Regions from separate parts of the Homo sapiens genome. Here region 1 is linked to region 2. A link means that fine-mapping ties the variant in region 2 to the expression of a gene that starts in the linked region. Tissue or cell type: anterior cingulate cortex. Region 2 holds a variant in brackets; the other region holds the start of a gene. All regions are shown on one strand. Distances are between the middles of the regions.

The links. PIP is the estimated chance that this variant, and not a neighbour inherited with it, causes the effect.
Region 1: it holds the start of ARHGEF16, and the variant in region 2 is fine-mapped to the expression of ARHGEF16 in anterior cingulate cortex (GTEx, PIP above 0.99).

What each region holds. Positions count from the first base shown.
Region 1 is chr1:3,451,355-3,459,354 of GRCh38, reverse strand. ARHGEF16 (Rho guanine nucleotide exchange factor 16) reads right to left here and starts at 4,690. Exons shown (of 15, transcript NM_014448.4): 1 at 4,544-4,690. RefSeq lists enhancers at 654-823, 1,343-2,094, 5,856-6,608.
Region 2 is chr1:3,570,828-3,579,082 of GRCh38, reverse strand. All of the region lies in intron 4 of MEGF6 (multiple EGF like domains 6), which reads left to right. Among named protein-coding and RNA genes, the nearest start is that of MIR551A, 14 kb to the right of the region's middle. RefSeq lists an enhancer at 1,621-2,120. The variant GGGGTCTCTCGGGTGT/T (reference allele first, on the strand shown) is at 5,016.

The sequences.
Region 1 (8,000 bases), 120 kb after region 2:
CTTGTTGTCAGAGTTGCTGGGGAAGGGCCCCAATGTCCCGATCTCTTTCTCGGATCACAACCGGTGTGTGGTTCTCCCTGGCCCCACTGAGGGTCTGGCGCACCTGCTGGAGCCTGGGAGCTCTGGCTGTCTTGCTGATGTGCCTCGGTAGGGTCCGTGTTCGTTCACTGAGCCAGCCTGGGAGCTCTGATTGTCGTGCTGATGTGCCCCCGTAGGGTCCATGTTAGTCCACTGAGCCAGGCACTGGGTGGAACCCTGCCAGGCGGTCACTCTTGTCTAGGGCTGCGCAGATTTTCATATTATTTCTTCCACTCTGTTTTCTCTTTTTGGAATACCCACTAATGAGTATTAAGCTCTGGTGTTTTCTCCTAATTCCTTACCTTTCCTCCCCTACTTTGTTCTCTGTGTGAGGTTTTCTCTACTTGGACTTCTTATTGGCCCCTGGTCTTATCATTTTCATTATCCTCAAAGAGCCCTCTGCTCTTCATTCCTGGCATCCTGCTCTTGCTTTATGGGTGTAACATCTTCTATTGTCTTAGAGAGGAAGGATTACATTTTCTTTGGAGCGAGTTTCTTTCTTTCTGTCGCTGGCTGCTGGAGCTGCGCCCCTGCCACATACTTCCTCCTGTCTCCGCCTCTGCTGGCCTCTGTCTCTCAGGCACAGGGCTTTCCTCAAACATCTGCTGCTGGTGGTTGATTGTTTCTGCTTCTATTGAGGAGACAGGCCTTATGATGGCGGGAGGTCCAAGTGCACACACCCTGAGCACAGGTGTCTGACCGGGAGGGCCCAATGGGACCCCCAGCCCCATGCCAGGTCCATATCCTGAAGCCTGTCCTGCAGGCCGGCTGGTTTCTACAGTGGCCTCTTTCCATTTCCTCACTGAGATGCTGGTCGGCTCCTGGTGGAGCCAGTGAAGGGGAGGGGCTGAGAGGGCAGACTCCTTTCAGCAGCTGGCCATGCTGTCCCGGCTGCAGTGCCACAGAGAGAGGTCAGATTTCCTGCAGCAGCCACGTGGGCCAGTGGCAGATCTGCTCCCCAGCAAAGGCAGCCCTGACTTGCTGAGTGGGGGCTTAGCACAGGGCATGCACAGGGCAGAGGGAGCCGCAGGCTGGCTGGCTGGCTGTCCTGTCTCCCCATGTCTGTGAGCCCTTGCGGGGCAGGGACAGTTTCCTGTTCGTGTCCCCACAGTCGGGCTCAGATTCCACACTGAAGAGCAAATGCCTGCCTCGGCACGTGCTCTGCCCTGGTCTCCTAGTACCTTGATTCTGTGTCTTCCCAGAGAGGCCCTGGTGTTCCGTGCCAAGAACCAACTTGCAAGGGGACTTGGCTCAAAATGAGCAGAGGCTGGGCCAGGGCAGCCCCATAGAGGTTCTGGGCCCATCTGTGCCACTTTTTGGGCGACTTCCTGCTGCTTCTCCTCAGGGTGGGCTGGAAAGGACCTCCCATGGCTGAGCCCTGGGGCCCAGAACTCTCTCTTTTCTCTTTACCACTAAATACCCCACCTGGTATCCCCAACACATATAGTTATGGGGCATGAGGGACTTGCCAGGAGGAGGCGTGCAGCAGAGGCGAGCAGGCGGAATCCATGGTCTCTGGGCAGTCTCAGGGGCCCCCGCCTGGCCGGTCCAAGCAGGTGGAATCTGTGGTCGCTGGCCAGTCTCAGGGCCCCCTGCCCAGCCTGTCCGTTCCTGTCCGTACTTGGCCTTGGCTGATCTGCTGGATCTCGGACCCAGTGTTGGTTGGGTGGGCCGCTCTGTAGCCCCGCCCTCCTGCCCCCTTATCCTTCCGGAGAGATGGGCTTCTAGTGAGTCTAGTGGGCGCCAGCCCCGTGCCTCCAGCATCCCCATAGCAGTACAATCTCCCAGCCAGCGCCTTGGGCTCTGGGCACAGCTGCTGTCACGGCCACCAGGACCCAATTGCCCCAAGTTTGCTGCCCCTCCGGTTAGGATGTTGCACAGGCCTCCAGCTTCATGTGGTCCCACCCTCAGGCATTTCTGTCCCTCCTACCCTGGCCTCTAGGTCCGGCTGACCCCACTCGGCCCAGTGGGGCGCGGCCTCTCTAGCACCTGTCCATCCAACCTCAGTGAAGGCAAACTCAAGCTACAATGATGCCCTTGTACTCCGGTAATTCTGCCCGTCAAACTTCGGACTCAGTCACATAATCGGGGGGAGGACTTGCTTTTGCAAATCATGCAGCACACATCAGCCAGCTCCGTTTGCAAGGTGGCCAGGGATTTGGCTCTGCGGCCTTCACTGGGGCAGTTTTGGCCCCCAGGGCACATTTGCCAACGTCTGGGGACACTGCTGGTAGTCAGGAGTCCTGGCTACTGGTTGGCAAGGCTGCTGGAGAGACCTGTTATCTGGATCAAGGTCCCTAGGGCTGCGGTAGGGAAATCCTAGGCAGCTAAGCAGAGAGCCACCCTGCGCGGTGGGGGCGGGGAAGTGCACCTGGCCCTCCCACCTGGACATAGCTGGTTCAGCCCAAAGTGCATTCCAGTCACTCCCCAGCTCCGGCTCTGAATGAGACATCCCATAAACCCAGCTGCTGTCCCTGGCTCTGCTGCCACTCACGGGGTTCCCCCAAAGGGTGGGAATCAGAGCCTGCCTCTGACAGGTGCCCGTGTGGGTGACAGGTCTCCTGCCACCCGTTCACCCGCTGTAGGACAGACACACAGACAGTGCCCTCTGAATGCCCTGTCATCCACTGTCTTCTGCCCCTCCCCAAACTTCTGGAAGGTGGGTATTTTCCCGGGCAGGTAAGGAAACCAGGTGCAGAGGGAATGTGGCCTGCGGGGGTGGGACTGCTGGCCAGGCCCTGTCCTGACCTGGATGGCTGTCCCCAAATGGGGACCGGGGGGAGTGGGGGTTCTGGCCTCAGCCAGGGAGTCACTAGAAATAAGGACGCTGCTCCAGACGGATGGTCCCCTGTGCTAAGGACAGGAGCAGCCCAGATCCATCTGGAAACCAAAACTAAAACTCAGACCCAAACTCGCGGGGAGCGCCTGCGCCTGGATCACAACGTGAACACAGATGGCCATCCTCAGGATGGGGACCTGCGCGTCACATGTGAGCTGTGGGGACCCTGGCACGCCGCTTCTCACTGCTTCACCTCTGTGCCTCAGTTTCCTCATGTGTAGGTGGAAAGTGCTTCCCACATAGGGTGGTCCTGTGGGTCAGAGATGGCCCCCGAAGAGCCAGCGACCTCAGGGAGGCCCCCCAACAAGGGTTTCTCCCCAGTGTCCAGGTGGAGGGAGGGCCCATCCCACCCTCCAGGTGACTTTGGTCCAGGTGACTTACTTCTTCCAGGAAGCCCCCAAGACACCTCCCTTCCAGCAAGACTGGGGTGGGTGAGGAGTGCCTACCTTCAGCCCATGGCTCCTGCTCTGGACAGTACCTTTCATCTCACCCTGTTCCCCTCTGCTGGCTGTGGGCATCGCACAGCAGGGTCCACGTCTGCCTGGCACACTTGTGGGTCAACATCTTCTAACTCAACACTCCTACTAGTCCCATTTTACGGATGAGGAAACCGAGGCCCCAAGAGCTGCTTAGTTCACAAAGAGCCAGGATGTGAGCCTGAAACCCACACACCTGGGAACTATGCCACGGAGGGGTCAGGACCTGCAGCCAGGCACAGCACCTGGACCCTCTTGCTGGACCCCCAGCCAGGCCCACACGCACCCCCTAGGCCCCCATGTTAGGTGGTGCACAGACTGTTCCCCTCAAGGACACAGAGAAGATTCAGGCCTTGATTCAGGTCAGAAGCAGAGGTCACCAAGACCTGCCATCGCTGCCACTCCCTCAGTCCCCCCACCTGCTCAAATCTCAAAAGGGATACTGTTCCCATTTCACAGACGCAGAAAGAGGCTGAGCGGCCAAGACAAGCGGCCACGGCTCCCTGGTAGGTGGGACGCACCCCTCCCCCTCCCCATCTCCCTTCTCAGGGGAGACAAAGCAGGTCCCTCCCTGCCACCGCCCACCAAGGTCAAGGGTGGGGGAGGGGCGTATGGTTTGGGTTTGTCTTGGGTGTGGGGTTCTTCCTTCTCGGGGCTTTTCTGAAATTTTGGGGCCAAAGCAGGTTTGGGTGTCAGATTCCCCAAAGAGCTCCCGGGAGGGTCGTTCTGTTCCGCCCCCCACCCCATGCTCTTTCAAACTCCCTGGGGCTTCCAGAGTCCTCGGCGCTCAAGTCTGAACCCAGGTTCCGGTTGCATGGAAGTTTTCCTTTAGGAAGAGGAAGCGGCCACTCGGGGTCAAGAGAGGGCAGCGAGCGAGCGGGCGGGGGCAAGCAGGGGGCTGCCTGGTGTGTGTGGGGGGGCGGGTCCAAAGTCGCATCCGGCTCAGCCCGCGAGCCCCGCCTCTCCCGCCCCGGCGGAGCCCCAGGAGGGTCGCGAAGTTGTTGCGGCTGCCGGGGCGGGGCTTGCGGGAAAAGCGAGGGGGAGGAGAAGCGCCCCGGGTTCCCGGCGCCTCCCCCGGGCTAATCCCCCCACCCGGCTCCCCCGAGCCCCGACTCACCTGTCCCCCGGCTCACCTGTCCCCCAGGCTCACCTGCGCCGCGGGGCGGAGGGACGGAGGGGCGGCGCGCTGGCGGTGCAGCTTCCAGCGCCGGGTCCTGTCCTGTCCTGCAGCCGCTTCGCTCCTGCGGCAGCGCGGTCCGGCCCGGGGCGCCTCCTCCGCTTCCTGCGCGGTCTGGCTGGAGGGCGGCGGCTGCGGCCCCGCAGGTGGGCGCTGGGCGGGCGGGGCTGCTCCGGGTCCGAGGGCCCGGGCGGGGAGGGCCGGGGAGGGGGCGGGGCGCGTCCCGGGCACCTGTGGCGGCGCCGCCTGCGTCACAGGTCACAGCCCCACCTGGGCCGGCTGGAGCCCACGTGATCGCCCGGACTGGATCGCGCCTCTCGATTCCCGCCGAGCCGCCGCCGCCCGGTGCCTGCGCCTTCCCTCCCCGCGCCCACGCCCCCTCGAGGCCGGCCCGGGAGTCGCCTGCCAGGCGTGGGGCCAGAGCGGCTCGGCTCCCTCCTGCGTCACTGTCCTTCCAGGCCCCGCTCCACTGCCTCCTCCAGGAAGCCTTCGGGGAAGGAGACCAGCCCTGCGGGGACCGATGTTTGCTGTAGAAAGGCCCGGCCCTCTGGATTCTTGGAAGCCAGGCGGCCAAAGACAGCCAAGAGGGCGCAAAGCACTCTGGCCACCTTTTTGGTGTGGTTGAGTCGCGGTCATCCCCATTTCACAGAGAAGGACCGAGTCCTGGAAAGGAAGGCGCTCGCCCTCGTGCACAAGGCTGAGCCTGGACTCCGAGCCTGGCCTTTCCTTGCTCCGCCTGCTGGGAACCCGTGTGAAAGTGAGGGAGGGCCCCGGGCAGAGGCTGCAGCAGCCCCCCAGCTGGGGGTTCAGGAATCAGGCCACCTGGTGCTGTGGGAGGGGCTGGGGGCTGAGCCAAGCCTCCCAAGCTTGGGCCTGGCCATTCAGGAATGTGACCTGAGGTCCCAGGGCTCAGACCCACTTCTGACCTGCCTCCATCATCCCCTTTTCAGGAAAGGCCTGTTGCCAAAGGCCTCCATGTGAACATCCACACTGGGCTTTGGGTCAGCTTCTACCAGCGTCCCCTCACTGACCCCAGGCCTTGGGGTCGTGGGCCGGGCACCGGTGTGCCAGCCAGAGGCACTGACCACCCTCCTCCCAGGACCTGCCTCCCTGGCCTGGGCGGCCGTGAGATCCCGTTGCGGGTTGAGGAGACACCACAGGCTCTGGGGCTGTCACTTGGCATTTTCTCAGGTGTCATAGGTAGAGGGGCGGCCTGCCCTGCCCCTCCTGCTCTGGTCGCCCCACCCACTAGTCCCCCAATGTCTGCCCTGTGGCTGGGGCTGCCTGGGTGTCAGGTGCCATCTGGGCAGGGCACAGGCTGGCCTCAGGGATGGGTCCCGTGGGCCATCCATCCCCTGGGAGGGAGGGTGGATGAGGGAGGAGCTAAGAGTTGACCCCTGTGGGCTGCAGCCTCCACCTGGAGCCGCCTGTGGGGAGGTTCCACTTCCAGGCAGCTCTTGGGAAAGGCAGGTGGCTGCTGCCCTCCTGAGTCCATGATGGGTACTGCACCGACGAGGCCCGGCCTGCCGGAGGGAGCTGGGGTGTCCCGGAGCCTTGACCCGTGAGGGGACTGAGGTGCGGTGGGGTCACTGAGGCCCAGTGAGGGGACAGAAGCCTTGCCCCAGGCCAGTCAGCAGGACCCAGGTTCCTGATTCCCACTGAGTGCTTTCCTGTAAAACCCTCTTTCAGTAGCTGCCTCCAAGTTACCCCCAACCCCACACCTTCTGTCCAGCCCCTGCTGGGCCCGTTCAGCCACCCTGGGTCTGGCTTCGTCTCCCCATGTCCTGCTGGCTTCCAGAGGCCACTCAGCGTGTGCTTGGGATGGTCCCTTTGCTGGGGATGTCACCTGAGCTGGCGTCAGGACCTCTCTGTGCCTCTGTCACCTCTGCTGTAAATGAGGGCCTGATGCTGGCGCAGGAGATCGCCCTGGCATGAGGCCTAAGGGAGAGGTTGGAAGGAACCAGCTTGGAGACCTAAGGGGCTCGCAAGGAGAGAGAGACTCCGGGGAGGCCTGCCAGTGGGAGGCCTGCCAGTGGGGTCGGCCCGTGGCACTTCCTGCACCTCTGTGGTGGGATCCCGAGCCTGTGGCTCAGCCTGCCCTGGGGGCCTTCCCCTCCCACATTACTGGCAGGGGAGAAGATGTGGATCCCCCAAGCTTAACAGCCACTGTGCATTGCTGTAGGGTGGGCAGCGCTCTGGCCGAGCACCAGTGTGCCAGCCAGAAAGCACACCTCTATCTGCGGGAGCAGAGCTCCTTTCCTGCGGCTTGAGGTGGCCTGAGCTCCTGCGGGCCTTGCTTTGAGTTTTCCAAGCTTTTACTCAGCCACTGGGGCCACAGCACAGACAGCCCGTAGCCTTAGGTGGTACCTGAGGCCAGCAGCCCCTCGGGAGGCCTTTTGGCTCGACCTTCCAGGGTAGGTGTCCAGGGCTGAGGGTGAGCTGAGGCTGCTGGGCAGGTTTGTCCTCCCTGCCAGGCCGAGTGGGCGGTGCTCCCACCTGCTCCCCTCCCTCCCTGGGGCCCTAAGGAGCACACGGGGTGGAGGGAAGGCCATGACAGCCCTCAGTTCTCAGGCCCTCAACGCTGGGCTGCCCTGTTACCCACTGCAGTTCCATGGGTGTCCTCTCCAGCCCGTAGGCAGCTGGGAAAGGGCCCCAAGGGCGCGGCTGTGAGTGGGATGGAGGACAGAGACGCCTCTGCTGGGTGGGTGGAGGCCCATGGCTGGGGGGGCCGGGCTGGTGGGAAGAAGGTTGGGTTTGAGGAGCAAATGCCCCTCCTCCTTGTACCCTAAAATAGCAGGTCATTACTTCCCATTAAGCACCTACTATGTGCCAGCCTCATGCTGGGGGCCTTGCACGCGTCATCTTAGTGAATTCTTACAGAAAGCCCCTCAGATGCCCCCCGCTTAACTGAGAGGAGAAATGTTTTGCCCCTTGTTACCTGGCTGGTAAGTGGCCCAGCCACAGTTAGAGCCCAGGTCTGTCTGACGCCAAAGCCCAGGATCCCTAGTCATCATTAGGGACCATTTCTGGTTTACAAAGACATGCATATAGTATTTATATTTTTATATAAAAATATATAAAAGCAACCCCATGTATCTTCCCCAAATTGAGAATTTAAAACATGTCAGGTGTTTTGGCCATGACGAAGTAGTCGGTACCAGACTTGTCTGTCACCACAAACAACTCAAACATGGAACAAAAAATACGAGAAACAACTCTTTCTAACACTGGACAACAGGTGCAGAGACAGAAATTCCTGGAGAAAGAGGTAAATAAGCCTTTGGCCAAGAGAGGCTGGTGGCCTCACTGGGCTACAGGGGACAGAGTTGGGGAGCCAAGGAGGCCAAGGACTATGGAGAGAGTCCTGGAGAGAAGGCAGCAGTGCAGGGGAGCCCCGAAAGAGTCCTGGAGAGAAGGCAGCGACGTAGTG
Region 2 (8,255 bases):
CCTGGGGCTTTGGGACTGCTCGTGTGGTGGCCACCGGGGCTCCATGCCAGGCAGATGCCAGGGCAGAGCGAGAGATGCACTCCGGTGCCCAGGCAGGCAGCAGGAAGCGATTCGAGGAAATCGGATGAATCAGGAGGTCCCCGTGTTTGTGAAGGACACCCCTGCCCACTCCACGTTGCGCTGGGGGCCGGGCTGAGGAGGGGTTCTGCAGAGGTGCTGGGTCTCCCCAGCGTTCTGAGCTGGGTGACACTCCTGCCCACTCCACGTTCCGCTGGGGACCAGGCTGAGGAGGGGTTCTGCAGAGGTGCTGGGTCTCCCCAGAGTTCTGAGCTGGGTGCCAGCAGCCTGGGGCATTGGCCATTGTTGGAAAGGCGGACAGTTGGTGCTGGAGGGTTTATTGAATGTCCTCTGTTAGCTGGGACGGCCCCTGCCGAGTCACCGCGAGTGCCTGCTGCTTCCTGGATGCTGGGTGGCTGGGAGGGCTGCTGCAGTGACCATGGACTGAGATCTGTCTGTCTCGTGTGGACGAAAGGGCCCCCCCCCCCCAGGGCCCCTGCCCTGTCATTGCCCTGTGACATCCAGGCTGCAGGCCTTGGCCAGGCCTCCCTGTGGTCCCTCTGCGGGCTGGTCAGAGGTGACCCATCCCTGTTCCGAGGACAGGTGGGGTCCACACAGGATGGAGTGGGCTCCACTGTCACGTTTGGCTTCTTGGGAGCTGTCATTTGGCCACAGGTGGGAGTTGAGAAATGTCCCGAGGGCCTTTCCGTCTCATTTGTCTAATCTTTTGGCAATGTGCGCCGCTTGACTTTGGTTTCACGCGGAAATACCAGGGCTGACTGGGCAGGCTGGGGAGGTTTCCGGGACGGGGCTGTGGCTCACTGGTCGGCCAAGCAGAGCCTCCTGTGGTCTCTGTTCCTAGGGGAGGGCGAGGAGGAGGTGGCCTTGCGGGGTGGCCTTTCCTGGCCGTGTCCTCTGGGAGGGGAGGGAGGACACCTGACCTGCCCCCTCAGGGCTGGCCTTCTGCCCACCGTCAGTCCCCTCCTCCCACCTCATCTTTGTCAGGAGCCAGCTCCAAGCCCCCTGCTCCATGAGACCCTGACGCGTGGACCCCGGGGCATCGGCAGGCACAGGGCTTGCAGGAGGCTCACTGCGGGCTGCACACCCTGTGGGGGAACTCGGCGTCTCGTGGAGGCTCAGTGTCCAGCGTGGGGCGAGGGCTCTGCATCTTTGGGGGTTTGGCATTGTTGGGGGGGCTCCATGCCCAGTGGGAGGGGCCTGTCTTCCCCAGGCCCAGGCCAGCACTGCGGAGTGGGCTCAGATGCCCATGCTTGGGTGCTTGGGGGTGGGGTGCACTCAGGTTCCCTGCGCCCCACCAGCCTCTTGGCTCTGACTTCTGTGTCACAGACTCTCACGGTGCCTGGGCCCGGGGCTCAGCATCCACAGCAGCAGCCCCATGCCCCAGTCACCGTGGGAACGCACCGCAGAGCAGGGAGGCTGGAGGCTGGGAGCTCCCTCCTGGCTCTGGGCCACTCTCTGCCTGCGTCACCTCATCAGCTCCACACTTCATTTGCTTCATGAAAGAGGAAAGCAAGGTTGAGGAGACCCAGCAGCTGCTGGTGCTCAGCTCACAAGCAGCCTAGTTGGGGCTGAAGCCAGGTCTGTCTGAGGAGTGCCATGTGCTCCCTTCTGGCCATGCTGCCACCTGGTGCAGGGACAAGCCTTGGTCCCGGGGGAGCTGTTGAGATTTGCTTTGGAGGAGAGGGGAGCAGGGTCCCCTGCAGGGCAGGAGCATCCTCCCCTGTGGCTGGCTTGTGGCCCTTGGGTAGCGGGCCTCCTGGGAGAGTGGCCAGTTGGGGCAGACGTGGCCTTCACAGGGGGCAGTTGACAAGCTGGAGGGTGGCTGCCCGGCCTCCTCGCTGGTCACTCTCTCGGAAGAAGGGGAGGGTATGGAGGCTGGGTGTGCAGAGCCGAGGGTGCGGGGCTCAATTATGCAGGGCTGGACATTCAGGATGGAGTGTGTAGAGCTGGGTGTGCAGGGCCAGGTGTGCAGGGGTGGAGTGTGCAGGGCCAGGTGTGCAGGGGTGGAGTGTGCAGGGCTGGGCATGCAGGATGGAGTGTGCAGAGCTGGATGTGCAGGGCCAGGTGTGCAGGGGTGGAGTGTGCAGGGCCAGGTGTGCAGGGGTGGAGTGTGCAGGGCCAGGTGTGCGGGGGTGGAGTGTGCAGGGCTGGGCATGCAGGATGGAGTGTGTAGAGCTGGATGTGCAGGGCCAGGCCTGCAGGGGTGGAGTGTGCAGGGCCAGGTGTGCAGGGGTGGAATGTGCAGGGCTGGGCATGCAGGGTGGAGTGTGCAGGGCTGAGGGTGCAGGACTGAGTGTACAGGACTGAGTGTGCAGGGCTGAGTGTGCAGGCCGGGTTTGCAGGGCCAGGTGTGCAGGACCAGGGCTGAGGGGGTGCTGCCTGCAGGTGTAGCCCCTGCCCATAGTGCTCCCACCTAGACCTCTCACCATCACCTTCCTGTCCCTCCTCCACTCTGGGTCTGGGGACTGCAGACCTGAGCTCAAACGCAGTTGGGAATATTTCACTAACCCCCCAATTATAATTGATTCCAGTTTTGAAAATAAAAGCCATATTTTCTGGTTCCCCCAAATTATTTCATTTGAACAAAGGAGTTGGGGAGGGAGACAGGAACTCTCTGGGCAGCTATGGAGGGCAGTGGGGGGAAGGAGCCCTCCCTGCTGCCCACAGCCCCAGCTCTCCCTCCTTGGCCCAGATGGCAAGTCTCGGGTCTGCAGCGGGCGGGGACTTTGCAGCAGTGTTTCCCTGAGGCCCTGGGAGCCCTTCCGCAGAAGCAGCGGGAGCCGTGGGAGCACAAAGCGGGCCTGTCTGCCCGGAGGGTGGAGGGCCCGGCGCTGGGCAGGCCCTGCAGTGAAGGCTTCCCCGGCCCAGTGCAGGCCTCGGCGCAGTCACAGTCAGGGCCAGCCGCTCATTTTGTCCAGGGCTGGCTTTGGTGTTCCCCAGGCCTGTGCCTGTGTGACCGGGGTAACCTACTCCACCTCTTGGACCCCAGTCCCCCTTCTGTTCAGCAGGGAGGAGATTTGGCGATGTTTTGTGCAGGTTGCGTGAGTCCACGTAGGTGAGGCCCGGAGTGGGCCTGGCAGAAGGGTCGGGAAGTGGGGGTCATGGCAGGGACAACCATTGTGATGGCTCAGGTGCAGACTTTGTCCCCAGCTGATATGGTTTGGCTGTGTCCCTACCGAAATCTCATCTTGTATGTCCCATAATTCCCACGTGTCATGGGAGGGACCCAGTGGAAGGTGGTTGAGTCATGGGGGCAGGTCTTTCCCGTGCTGTTCTCGTGATAGTGAATAAGTCTCATGAGATCTGATGGTTTATAAGGGGGAGTTTCCCCGCACAAGCTCTCTCTCTTTGCCTGCTGCCATCCATGTAAGATGTGACTTGCTCCTCCTTGCCTTCTGCCATGATTGTGAGGCCTCCCCAGCCACGTGGAACTGTAAGTCCATTAAACCTCTTTCTTTTGTAAATTGCCCAGTCTAGGGTATGTCAGCAGTTGGAAAACGGACTAATACCCTGGCTCTTGGGGTAATTACACAAGAGCACCCAGCTGCCATGTGGAGTCTCCCAGAGTGGTCCAGGGTTTGGAAGATCCCCCAGGACTGCCAGTTTCCTTGCCCTGTGGGTCTGCAAAGGAGCGAGGGGGACTCTAAAGACCCCCTCCCCTGTCCCTGGGAGGACTTTGGGGTCCCATCAGAGTATCAGTTTCATCAGACCAACCAGGAACAGTTTTCACAGCTGAAAACCTGGCCTCTTCCTGCCTTTGCACCCGGGTCCCACCTGTGTGCGCTGCTCTGGCAAGCGTGGATGGATGCCCCCACCCCTTCCCCAACACCCACTGGTGACCTGGGCTTGGCTCAGAATTGGTAATGAAAAGACCAGCAAGAAAAAGTTACTGAGAACAAATGACCTCCTAATAGATTTGTCTTTTGTAGTACACGAAGTCACAAAAGTCTCTACAGATCTCTTGATCTGGTCTCAGCTGACCTCATGGGACAAGGGCAGGCTCTGAGAAATGAGGCCTGGGTCACCTCTAGGTACTTTCTTGGTTCAAGAACCTTTGGCTCAAGCCAGGCGTGGTGGCTCACACCTGTAATCCCAGTCCTTTGGGAGGCCGAGGCACGTGTATCACTTGAGCTCAGGAGTTCGAGACCAGCCTGAGCAACATGGTGAAACCCCGTCTCTACCAAAAATACAAAAATTAGCCAGGTGTGGTGGCGGGCGCCTCTAATTCCAGCTACCCAGGAGGCTGAGGCAGGAGGATTGATTGAACCTGGGAGGTGGAGGTTGCAGTGAGCCAAGATTGCGCCACTGGACTCCAGCCTAGCTGACAGAGCAAGACCCTGTCTCAATAGATAAATAAGTAAATAAATAAATAGTAACCTTTGGCTCTGATTCCCTTTTGGGCCTCAGTTCCCACCCCCCCACCCCCGGCACCAGTCAAAGGGGCAGATCAGACGGGTCTCCAGCACCACCACACTAGAGTGTTGCCACCCTCACTCCTGGGTCCAGGTGAGTGGTCAGGGTTCCAGTGATGCCCATCAGAGGCTTGGCTGCCCCAAGGGCTTCCTGGAGGAGGTGGGCCTGTGGGCTGGGGAAGGTTTGGGAGGTGCAATTTGTTCCGGACAAGTTTCCAGACAGGACAGAGACAGGAGCAGAGGAGCAGAGCAGAGGAGAAAGTCATTTTGGCCCTGAGGTACGGGGTCGGGAATGAAGGAAGGGTCAGCCAAGCTTCTAGAAGGTCCTCGGCCTCTCTCGGTGAGATGGAGCCAGGCGTTGCTGGGGGCCAGCTGGCAGGTGCTCCTGGGTACCTGCTGTGTGCCTGCCAAGCCGGGGGAGACATCAGTGGTCCTGCCTGGAGCCTCAGCACCCAGGCCCACTCTGAGTCCTGCACCTTTGAAGGAAACCTCGGTTTCCCTGCCTCAAGCAGGAGGCCCTCAGTG[GGGGTCTCTCGGGTGT/T]GGGCCTCTCGGGTGTGGGCTGGAGGTGGCTCTGGCAGCTGTTGGGGCCCTGAGGCTATGCCAGGAAGCAGAGCCTTGGAGAAGGTTGGGTGGCTAGGACTGGGTGGTGTCCTGAGCCCGTTTAGCCCTTGGCGTTGGCTCAGGGCGACTGTTTCTAAACTGGGACCATTGATTAATGGAGAGGAAGCGGCCCTCCCCACTGCCTTTCAATGCTGCCCACTGTGTCTGAGGGTGGGAGTCTGACCCCTCGCCCGAGCTCCAGACGCCACCCAGGGCTGCTCTTGGCGACCAGCCACGGCCAGGCCTGGGAGCTGCCGCTGCCAGACTCAGACTCTGTGCCCCAGGGAGTGGTGGGAGGGGAGGACGGGGCTCCTGGAAGGGCGGGCTCTGGGGCAGGGATGTTCTTTTCACAGCCTCTCTCCATGTTGTGCACTCCCTGGCTGGAGCTGGAGCTGGGGCTGTCTCTGGTCCTGCTCCCTGCCATGGGACCTTGTCCAGAGGCCTGCAGCCTGCAGCAGCCCCAGCCTGGGCTGATTCCTGGGGAGGCATCTCAGCTTTGTCCTGTGGACGTGGCCTCGGGTTAACCTGACCCTGGTCCTGGGCTGTAGTTCCAGGCTCCCCGCACTGTTTCCCGTGCTTACCTTTGGGTGCAGCCAAGCAGAAGGTTTCCATCTGGGCCTGGAGCTGGCTCAGCCAGGAGGCCACCCTGGGGGAGGCTTTTTGTGTCTGGTGTGAGAAATGATCCTAGCATGCCCCAGGAGGACTAGGGGTTACCTGGCGGGGGGACCCAGCACACCTGGGAGGACCCAGCAAACCTGGGGGAACCCAGCACACACAGGAAGGACGCAGCACACGCAGGAGGACCCAGCATACCAGGGAGGACCCAGCACACCTGAGGGAACACAGCCCACCAGGGAGGACCCAGCACACACAGGAGGACCCAGCATACCAGGAAGGACCCAGCACACCTGAGGGAACCCAGCCCACCAGGGAGGACCCAGCACACCCAAGAGAACTCAGCATACCCAGGAGAACCCAGCACACCCAGGAAAGACCCAGCACACCCAGGAGAACCCAGCACACCCAGGAAGGACTCAGTACACCCAGAAGAACCCAGCACACCCAGGAAGGACCCAGCACACCCAGGAGAACCCAGCACACCCAGGAAGGACCCAGCACACCCAGGAGAACCCAGCACACCCAGGAAGGACCCAGCACACCCAGGAGAACCCAGCACACACAGGGAGGACCCAGCACACCCAGGAAGGACCCAGCATACGCAGGAGAACCCAGCACACACAGGAAGGACCCAGCACACCTGAGAGAACCCAGCATACCTGGGAGAACCTAACACACTCAGGAAGGACCCAGCACACCTGGGAGGACCCAGTACACCAGGAAGGACCCAGCACACCCAGGAAGGACCCAGCACACCCAGGAGGACCCAGCATACTCAGGAGAACCCATCACACACAGGAAGGACCCAGCATACCTGAGAGAACCCAGCATACCTGGGAGAACCTAACACACTCAGGAAGGACTCAGCACACCCGGGAGGACCCAGCACACCCAGGAAGGACCCAGCACACCCAGGAAGGACCCAGCACACCCAGGAGGACCCAGCACACCTGAGAGAACCCAGCACACCCAGGAGGACCCAGCACACCTGAGAGAACCCAGCACACCCAGGAGGACCCAGCACACCTGAGAGAACCCAGCACACCCAGGAGGACCCAGCACACCCAGGAAGGACCCAGCACACCCAGGAGGACCCAGCACACCCAGGAGGACCCAGCACACCTGAGAGAACCCAGCACACTCGGGAAGGACCTAGCACACTCAGGAAGGACCCAGCACACCCAGGAGGACCCAGCACACCCAGGAGGACCCAGCACACCTGAGAGAACCCAGCATAGCTGGGAGAACCTAACACACTCAGGAAGGACCCAGCACACCCGGGAGGACCCAGCATACCAGGAAGGACCCAGCACACCCAGGAAAGACCCAGCACACCCGGGAAGGACCTAGCACACTCAGGAAGGACCCAGCACACCCAGGAGAACCCAGCACACCCAGGAAGGACCCAGCACACCCAGGAGGACCCAGCACACCCAGGAGGACCCAGTACACCCTGAAGGACCCAGCACACCCAGGAGGACCCAGCACACCTGGCAGGACCCAGGACACCCAGGAGGACCCAGCACACCCAGGAGGACCTAGCACACCCAGCAGGACCCAGCACACCCAGGAGGACCCAGCACACCTGGAAAGGACTCAGCACACCCACGGGGACCCAGCACACCAGGGAAGACCCAGTGCACCCGCAAGGACCCAGCACACCCAGGAGAACCCAGCACGCCAGGAAGGAACCAGCATATGCAGGAAGGACCTAGCACACCCAGGAAGGACCCAGCACACCCAGCAGGGCCAGCATACCAGGAAATGACCCAGCATATGCAGGAAGGACCCAGCACACTTGGGGGGAAGACCCAGCACCCTTGGGGAGGACTCAGTGTGTCTGGGGGGACACCCTCACCCAGGAACCTTGCTCTCTGGCCTTTGGAGCCGGGAGGACCCAGCACCCTTGGGGAGGACCCAGCGTGTCTGGGGGGGATGTCCTTACTCAGGAACCTTGCTCTCTGGCCTTTGGGGCAGGCTGGCCTTGGTCTCGGTGTTTTCCTGCTCTCTGTGCTCGGGGGTGGGAGTCCTCTGAGAGCAAGAACAGGCTTCTGGCCTCCATGGTGGGGTCGTGTCCTACAAGCACCGGACACCTGACACCTGGGCTGGGAGATGCCTCATTGACTCCTGCCCTTCCTGGCTGTTCTGGGTTCCAGGCTTGGAGGAGCACTCTCTGGTTTCTGGACCATCAGAAAACCCAGCCACTGGCCATGGCTGTCCCCTCCTTGTGGGATGGCCCAGGGCCACCCCTGGTCCCCCAGACCCTCTCTCTGTGTCCTGCTCCCCAGGCTGTTGGCTGTCTGTGCTCACAGTTAATGGGGTCCCTGGAGGCCCCCGAGGAACATGGAGGTGTCAGCCATGAAGACAAGCTGGTGCTGAGCCGGCTCAGAGGGGGAGATAGGGCTGTGGTGTGTGTGTCCCCGTGTGCCACAGCCTCCCTGGGGCCCTGTCCCTGGGGATTGGTGGAGGGGAGAGACTGGGTGGCCCCGGGGGATGGCTGGAGGGAGGGCTGAGCCTCTGCCGTGTGAATGGGGAGGATGACTAGCC